Linked DNA regions of Homo sapiens: regions 1 and 3 are each linked to region 2. Evidence: fine-mapped expression QTL. A gene starts in region 2. Each other region holds a variant in brackets. All regions are shown on one strand. Distances are between the middles of the regions.

Region 1 (2,757 bases), 22 kb after region 2:
TCAGGCCTGGGGCTCCGAGCATACTCCTGGGGTCCCTGGGCCTTTGCTGCCCTTCACTAGCTCCCCATCCATATCAATCTCCCAACCCCAGTTCCAGCCCACCCCATCCCACACCCACCTGGCTCATGTCTCTCTGACCTCAGTTCCCGCCTGCACCCCCAGGGATGGGTGGGAAGGGTCTAGAAGGTATGGACCTGGAGTGGGTCACTTCTGGGGCAGCATGGGGGCCTGCCAGTCCTCCCTTCCCATCTTCTCCCAGCTTACACCTTCTAGGCCTTTGGTACTACCACCATCACCAGACCCCTTGAATTCCCATCCTGCATCATTGTCTTTTCTCCTCTGTAGGGGATGCCCCATACTGTACTCCAGAGCAGTACAAGGAGTGTGCAGATCCTGCTCTGGGTGAGCGCCCCTGGCCTGGGGCAGTCTGGGGGAGGGAAAAGGTGCTGCCAGCCACGTGCGCAGGAGTTTCAGGTCACGCTCCCAGAAGCCTCACATAACTCCTGGACTGGGCTGCACCCTCTCTTGTGTCTGACATTAAAGCTGAGAATGGTCAGTCATGGTGGCTTACACCTGTAATCCCAGCACTTTGGGAGGCTGAGGTGGGCAAATTGCTTGAGCCCAGGAGTTCGAGACCAGCCTGGTTTCATGGTGAAACCCTGACTCTATGAAAAATTAAAAAAAAATTATGTGGGCATGGTGGCATGTGCCTCTAGTCCCAGCTACTCTGGAGGCTGAGGTGGGAGAATTCCTTGAACCGGGGAGGTGAGGTTGCAGTGAGCCGAGATTGCACCACTGCACTCCAGCCTGGGTGACAGAGCAAGACCCTGTCTGAGAATAATAATAATAATCAATAAAGTTGAGAATAGCATCTTCAGAGGCCCCTATGAAAAATGAACAGAGGTCACCTGGGAATGGCCTTCATCTTCTTTCATCAGCCCCTCAGCTGGTTGACCCTGGAGGGTCCTGAGGAAGTGAGATATAAGAGTAAGAAATATCCATGGGGAGGCTTGGTGAGAATTAGCACATGGTAGACACAGCTGTGAGGGGGCAGCTGGGGTTCTCCTCACTCTCCTAGTTCTCTCCATCTACATCGTTGGTTCAGTGGCCTGCAGGGTTCAGCAGGTAAAGTCCTCAAACATGCCTCAGGCTGGATGGTGAGGTAGGATGTTGGCAGAGTTTAGCATCCAGGCAGGGTGAAGGGCAGGTCACGGAAAGAGAAAGGGGCCCAGAGTTTCTCTGGGCAGAGCTAGGATGTGCATGTGGGAAGGTGCTGGCAGAAGGGCACCACTCAACTG[A/G]GACCTCTCACCTGGCTGAGTGCAGACTTCCTGGTGGAGAAGGACCAGGAGTACTGCGTGTGTGAAATGCCTTGCAACCTGACCCGCTATGGCAAAGAGCTGTCCATGGTCAAGATCCCCAGCAAAGCCTCAGCCAAGTACCTGGCCAAGAAGTTCAACAAATCTGAGCAATACATAGGGTAAGGGCTCTGGCTGGGTAGAGCAAGGCCCTTGGGTTGGGACTGTGGAATGGATGAGTGGGGTTTGATGGGGGCGGGGGCTGGCAGGCAGGGGGAACTTGAGATAACACGGGGAAGGTCCAAAAGGCAAGCAAAGAGTCTAGGGTGGGTATGCAGGGAAGATCAAGCCAGAATAAGCAGGGAAGCACCCCTTTCTCCTCCTTCTTCATCCTCATTGTTGTAACCGGAGTCACTTTATACTTGATGCATACTGCATATGGTACAGAACATTTTTTCATATATGCCATCTCATTTAATCCTAAAAGGCAGGTATCTCCATCAGCATCTCATTTTATGGATATGGAAACTGAGATTCAGAGAGGCTGCCTTGCCAAGGTCACCTGGTTAGTAAGAGATAGAGATATGACTTGAACCTAGGTCTCCTCCCCCAATCCCTGTGCAGGGAGAACATCCTGGTGCTGGACATTTTCTTTGAAGTCCTCAACTATGAGACCATTGAACAGAAGAAGGCCTATGAGATTGCAGGGCTCCTGGGTGAGCTGCTGATGACACCTGTCCCCTTCTCATGCCATGGGCATGGCGTGGCTCCCTATCATCCAAAAGCAGGGTGCTCACTTCTGTCCCATGAGGGTCCTCCACCCCAGAGGCCCTTCCCCAAACCCTGTTGTCTTGGTAAGTGGTGAGGGAAGGGAACTGAGCCTTCTCTTAGGGCAAAGTGGAAAAGAGAAAAGACAGGCCTGTGGGCATGAGGGAGGGGTAGGCATGGAAGTGGAGACTATTTCATATGCCCCTAAACTAAGAGGGTTGTGGTATTTTGTAAACGATTATTTTTCTTGAAAAACACCTGCTTGTTTTAGAAAGGTAGAAAAACGCAGAAAAGCATAGAGAAGAAAACAAAAATTCCACCTGAATCTGGCTTTGCGATCCTTCTGTGCGAAGGCTACCAATCCCTTTGAGAATACAACTTGCCTGCCCCAGTCCCAGTAAACCCTGCTGCCCCCACGATGTCCTGACCCCACTGACCCCCCTGGCGCCTGCCCCCGCAGGTGACATCGGGGGCCAGATGGGGCTGTTCATCGGGGCCAGCATCCTCACGGTGCTGGAGCTCTTTGACTACGCCTACGAGGTAAGCGGGGGCGAGGCCCGGCACGGGGCCACGTGGGGGCGGGGTCCAGCCCGCCCACCTGCCCCGTCCCCGTCCTAGGTCATTAAGCACAAGCTGTGCCGACGAGGAAAATGCCAGAAGGAGGCCAAAAGGAGCAGTGCGGACAAGGGCGTGG
Region 2 (2,757 bases):
GCCCGGGGGCATAGCAACCCTCCAGCACTGCCTGGTACCGCTGAACAGCTCCCCAAGACCTGAATGGAAGATCCTCCCTTCCTTTTGGCAGCTCCGTGTCCAGTCCCCTAGTAAATGGATCTCGACCTCCCTCCTCCACAATCTTAAGTCCACTCTCCCACTAGGGACCTCCAGACCCCTTCTCTGGTTTCCTAGATGTCCACTACTCCCAACTTCTCATCCAACTTCTTTCCAATGTGCCATCCCCTTCTCGTTACAGGTTTTCTTCTAACTTAAAGCCCGGCACCATGTCCTAGGAATACACCTCTCACCATCCTTCTCCCCGAGCCGCACCAGCCTGCAAGTAGAGCGAAGGAGCCACTAGAGACAGAACTCTGGTCCCCCGCACCCTCCTCCTCATCATCTGACACCATCAGACCTCAACAGCCTCTGTGCTAAGAGCCCCTAATGAGCATCAGCAAATTAACAACTTCCCCTTGATTGCTCCTTCTCTGTTAATTGGATAGGGAGGGCCCCCCTCCCCAAGGCCTCTCAGAGAAGAGGAGGGAGGCAGGGAAGGAGAAAGGTGAGAGCCACAGGAGCAGCCCCCAGGCCTGCGTTCTGTGCTGAGACTTCTGCTCCATCCCTGAGCATAGCTCCCCGTTCCAACCCTTCCTCACCCTGTCCCCTTCACTCCCTTTGCCTCCTTCCTTCTGTCCAAATTCCCTTGACCTCTGGCTATTTTTCCTTCCTTTTCTCTGCTCCTTCTTTGGAGATTTGGCAGTAAGGGGTTGCGACCATGCCCCCCACAAGCCCAAAGCTACAAGGATGGGATCTGAGTGGTCAAGGCTGCGTGTTGGCTCACATATGTGCACGTGTATATGTGTCACATGCAGGTGGGAGCAGGGATAAGAGCAGGTGAGTGCTTGCCATGTGGGTCAGGCCCCCGGGATACGTGGACATCTGTTGCGGGGGGGTGTGGTTGTGAATGGTGTGGTGTGACTCTGGTCGGTATGTGTGTCTGTCTCCATATGGGCTAAGTGCTTGAATTAGTCAAGTGTGACTCGGAGCGTGTGTGTGTATGTGTGTGTGTACGCGCGTGTGTGCCACCAGAGGAAGCAGCAGCAAGAGGCAGGAGCATCGATCCGAAGGAGACAGCGCGGGGAGAGGGACGCTAGGGGCAGACACCCTCCCTCCTGCGCGCACACACGCGCGCGCGCACACACACCACACACAGAGTCATACACACAAGCCATAGGGCCTCGCAGGCAGGGAGACGGCTCCGGGACTGGAGAGAGGCAGCGCCGCCGAAAGCGGCCGCGAGGAGGGGCGAGGCGGCGCGGGGAGCCCTGGGTCCCGCTCCCGGATCCGGGGCCCCGCGCGCACACCAGCCCAGAGACAGCCTCGCAGACACTCGTAGGCGCGCACGCGCACCCTCTCCCCTCCCCCTCCCCTCCCGCCGCCTCCCGGCCGGACGATGGATCCCTGCAGATCCCAGGGCTGAGAGCACCGCGCACCGCGCCGAGCCCGGGCAGACCGAGCCGAGGCGAGCGAGCCAGCGAGCCAGCGCGCGCGGGCGGGCGGACAGATCGGAGCCGAGCGGGGCCGGGCGGGGCGCTCCCTGCAGGGCTCTGCGCGGCGTGCCGCGGCGGCCGCGGGCTCCGGCCCCGGGCCATGAGCCCCTCCGCGACTCGGCGCTGAGCCCGCCACCGGTCCAGCGCCCCAGGACCCGCCGCCGGCTGCCGGCTTGCCGAAGCCCCCTCAGGTGGGTTTCCGATACCCCTGCCTTTGGCCGCGAGGCTCCTCGGTACCCCGAAGCCGGGACTCTCCTCCCTCTGGATTTCCCTTGCTGCTGGGGCGGCTCGGTGGCTGGGGAGGGGGGCGGGGGCCGAGCTGGGGATCTGACTGCGACGAGAAGCTGGACTGGGGGGGGCTGCGTCCGGGGCGGGGACAGCTCGCTGTCATAGGGAACCGCGCCCCCCCTCCATACATCCACCTCGGGCAGCCCGCCACCCCCCACTCCCAACATACACACAGCCTGCGCTTATGTGAGAACTGGAGACACCCGCAGGTGAGGACTCAGGCTGGGCCCCTCCCTAGATGTAGCCACCTCCCTGGGGGTTTTCTGGCCCCAGTTTAGCCCTTAGGACCACAGCCCCGTCCAGGGAATACCCGTGACCAGGACAGGAGCTCCTTACCCCGGGGTCAGCCCATCTGGGTGAGTTTTCATCTCCAGGATGGGGTGGATATTCTTGTCCCAGAGTGACCCCACATCTGGAGGGAACTCCTGCGCCTGCCTATGGGTGCATCAGGACTTCCCCCTCAACCTCGGATGACTATATCTGGGGTCTCCCCGGGCCTGGGAAGCTTCTCTGGGGAGCATTCTCTTGGCCTGACCTGACCCCCTGTGCCTCTGTATTTGGAGGAACCCTGGATGTGTCCCTTGGTCAGCCACCTCTGGGCTTGCAAAGCAGGGAAGTCTTCTGCCCGAGGAGTGGTGACCTCTGGAGATGAGGATTCTGGATGGGCACATGTGGAGGGGCTCCATGTGTACTTTCATCCCAGGACAATGATAGACTGTCCCTCCCTCCTCCCCCAGGATCCCCTCAACAAGGATGGAACTGAAGGCCGAGGAGGAGGAGGTGGGTGGCGTCCAGCCGGTGAGCATCCAGGCCTTCGCCAGCAGCTCCACACTGCACGGCCTGGCCCACATCTTCTCCTACGAGCGGCTGTCTCTGAAGCGGGCACTGTGGGCCCTGTGCTTCCTGGGCTCCCTGG
Region 3 (2,757 bases), 470 kb after region 2:
GTGTTCCTGAATGAGAAGACTGATATATATAAATTTAATGGGAGTCCAATTAGAACTCCAATGGAAGATTCTTTAGGGAATGGAGAATTAGATAAAATGATCTTAGTGTTCACATGGAAGAATAAATAGAATAGCCAAGAAAATTTAGAAACGGAATAGTGAGGTGATACTTGGCCTTACCACATATTAAAACAGATTCTAAAGTTACTGTATTCAAAGCAGTATGGTATTAGCTTTAAAACAGGATGAATGGACAGAATACTATGCCCAAATTCTTATATATATAGGAAAACAATTACGTGTGAAAACATACAAGTTGTATTAGCTTAGTTCAGTTGTCTTCCCAATTTCCTCAAATTATAAAATATTTTAAAATAAATTTACTAGGACTCCATAGGACATCAGAATAGAGAACTTGTTGATATTCTGTTTATCCTGTCAGGAGGAGTACACTGGAGCTAGAAAGAAAAGCCTCTTCCTGCAATGTCTTTCCAGTGCCCTCTATGGACAGGCAAAGTTTAACATCATGGCAGCTGTCAAAGGAAAAATATTTAAAGGGCCCATCTCAGTTTTCACAGAGCAGCGAGGGTATATTTGGAGCTGAAAGGCCATAAATTGATAACACATCCTTGATTCCTCTCCTTCAGGCCACCTCTCTGTATCAAGTCCATCAGTGAGCCTTTTTGGTACTACCTTGAGAATATATTCTAAATCTACTTCTTTCCATGCCGAGTCACTGTTAATCATGCCCATGTCATCACATCTCTTGCTTCTTTAGCTCCTTACCTGGTGGTGTCCCAGCTTTCTTCTCTCTAACCCATTTTCCACATAGCAGGTAGAGAGCTTTTTAAACTGCAAATTAGGTCATATTACTTCCCCGCTTTATAGCTCTTCCATGAATTCAGTTTGTCTTTAAAATATAATTCAGATACGTTTCCATGGCCTGCAAGACCTACACCGCCCTGACCCCTCATCTTTTCCCCTCACCCATTGTGCTTCAGCCACATTGGCTGACTCTTCTTTCTCTTTTCCTTCCTCCCTTCTCTCCTTCCCTATTCTTCCCTCTCCTCTCCACCTGTCTCCCTGCCTCCCTCCATCCTCCCGCTTCCCTCTTCCTTTTTTTAATTTATCTGGTGTTTATTGAGTGCCTACTATGTGCCACATAGGTGCAGGTGATACAGCAGTGATTAACATGACAAACACCCCTCCCCTTAGGGGGCTTACATCTGTAGCTGTAGACAGAGAATAACAAGTAATATGTATTGCTTGTTAGATGGTAAAAATTTATTGTTATTTTTTTTGAGACAGGTTGGAGTGTAGTGGTGTGATCATGGCTCAACTGCAGCTTCCTCTTCCTGGGCTCAAGAGATCCTCCCCCTCAGCCTGCTGAGTAGCTAGGACTCCAGGCCTGTGCCACCATGCCCGCCTAATTTTTATTTTTTGTAGATACAGGGTCTTGCCATGTTTCCCAGGCTAGTCTCAAATTC[T/A]TGGGCTCGAGCAATCCTCTTGCCTTGGTGCCCTGCAGAGTGTTGGGATTACAGGTGTGAGCCTCTGTGCCTGGCCATTTGGTAAAAATTTCAATGGAGAAAAAGCATCAAGAGGGACAGAGAAGGCTGGGCACGGTGGCTCACACCTGTAATCCCAGCACTTTGGGAGGCCGAGGCGGGCAGATCACGAGGTCAGGAGATTGAGACCATCCTGGCTAACATGGTGAAACCCCATCTCTACTAAAAATACAAAAAAATTAGCTGGGTGTGGTGTTGGGCGCCTGTAGTCCCAGCTACTTGGAAGGCTGAGGCAGGAGAATGGCGTGAACCCGGGAGGCGGAGCTTGCAGTGAGCCGAAAGCGGGCCACTGCACTCCAGCCTGGGCGACAGAGCGAGACTCCATCTCAAAAAAAAAAAAAAAAAATACAGAGAATACCGGTAGAGGGTTATTGGGCACAATTTAAAAGAGGGTGGTCATCATGAGATGATACTTTGAACAAAATAGGCATTTCTTTTCTTCCTTGAACTCAACCGTGATGCATGTTGCTGCCTCTAGGTCCCCTTTTTTTTTTTTTTTTTGAGACAGAGTCTCACTCTCTCATCCAGGCTGGAGTGCAGTGGTGTACATGGAGCTCACTGCAGCCTTGACCTCCCAGGCTCAAGAGATCCTCCCACCTCAGCCTCCCTAGTAGCTGAGACTATAGGTTTGCACTATCACACCTTGCTAATTTTTTTATATTTTGTAGCTACAGGATCTCACTCTGTTGCCCAGACTTGTCTTGAACTCCTGGGCTCAAGCCATCCTCCCACCTTGGCCTCCCAAAGTGCCGGGGTTGCAGGTGTGAACCACCATGCCTGGCCACCTCTATGTCTTGTTCCTTGCTTTTCTTCTTCCTAGAATGTTCTGCTCCAACTTAGTCTCAGTTCAAAGTTAACCTCCTTAGAGAACCTCCAAGGTTAAATTAGCAACCCCTCCCATCATTCTTCATCTCACCACTCTCTTTTACTTTCTTTTTTTCCTGTTTAAAATTTTCTAATTAATACCAACATTTGAAATGATCTTGTTCATATATTAATATGATTGGATTCTTCCTCAGTAAAATGTTTGTTTTTTGAGTGCAGAGATTTTACTGTCTTGTTCCCTGCTGTCTCTCTAGTGCCTAGAATAGAAGACTCAATAGACACTTGTTCAGTGAACAAATGGACTTTGCAGGGAGAAGATTCCAATGGAATTCTTTAGATGGTGGCAGCTTTAAAGAGTAAAGAAGTG

The links. PIP is the estimated chance that this variant, and not a neighbour inherited with it, causes the effect. A credible set is the group of variants that fine-mapping cannot tell apart.
Region 1: its variant is the best candidate, but not a certain one, in a credible set for the expression of ASIC1 in whole blood (TOPMed, PIP 0.68).
Region 3: its variant is the best candidate, but not a certain one, in a credible set for the expression of ASIC1 in whole blood (TOPMed, PIP 0.57).

Annotation. Positions count from the first base shown.
Region 1 is chr12:50,078,579-50,081,335 of GRCh38, forward strand. ASIC1 (acid sensing ion channel subunit 1) reads left to right here. Exons shown (of 12, transcript NM_001095.4): 7 at 346-402; 8 at 1,324-1,477; 9 at 1,920-2,011; 10 at 2,524-2,603; 11 at 2,682-2,757. Among named protein-coding and RNA genes, the nearest start is that of SMARCD1, 5.4 kb to the right of the region's middle. RefSeq lists a silencer at 2,510-2,679. The variant A/G (reference allele first, on the strand shown) is at 1,299.
Region 2 is chr12:50,056,173-50,058,929 of GRCh38, forward strand. It overlaps ASIC1 (acid sensing ion channel subunit 1), which reads left to right and starts at 1,424. Exons shown (of 12, transcript NM_001095.4): 1 at 1,424-1,744; 2 at 2,579-2,757. The coding sequence starts at 2,595. RefSeq lists silencers at 1,227-1,386, 1,457-1,626.
Region 3 is chr12:50,523,465-50,526,221 of GRCh38, forward strand. The region is part of intron 1 of DIP2B (disco interacting protein 2 homolog B); the gene reads left to right. Among named protein-coding and RNA genes, the nearest start is that of DIP2B, 20 kb to the left of the region's middle. The variant T/A (reference allele first, on the strand shown) is at 1,488.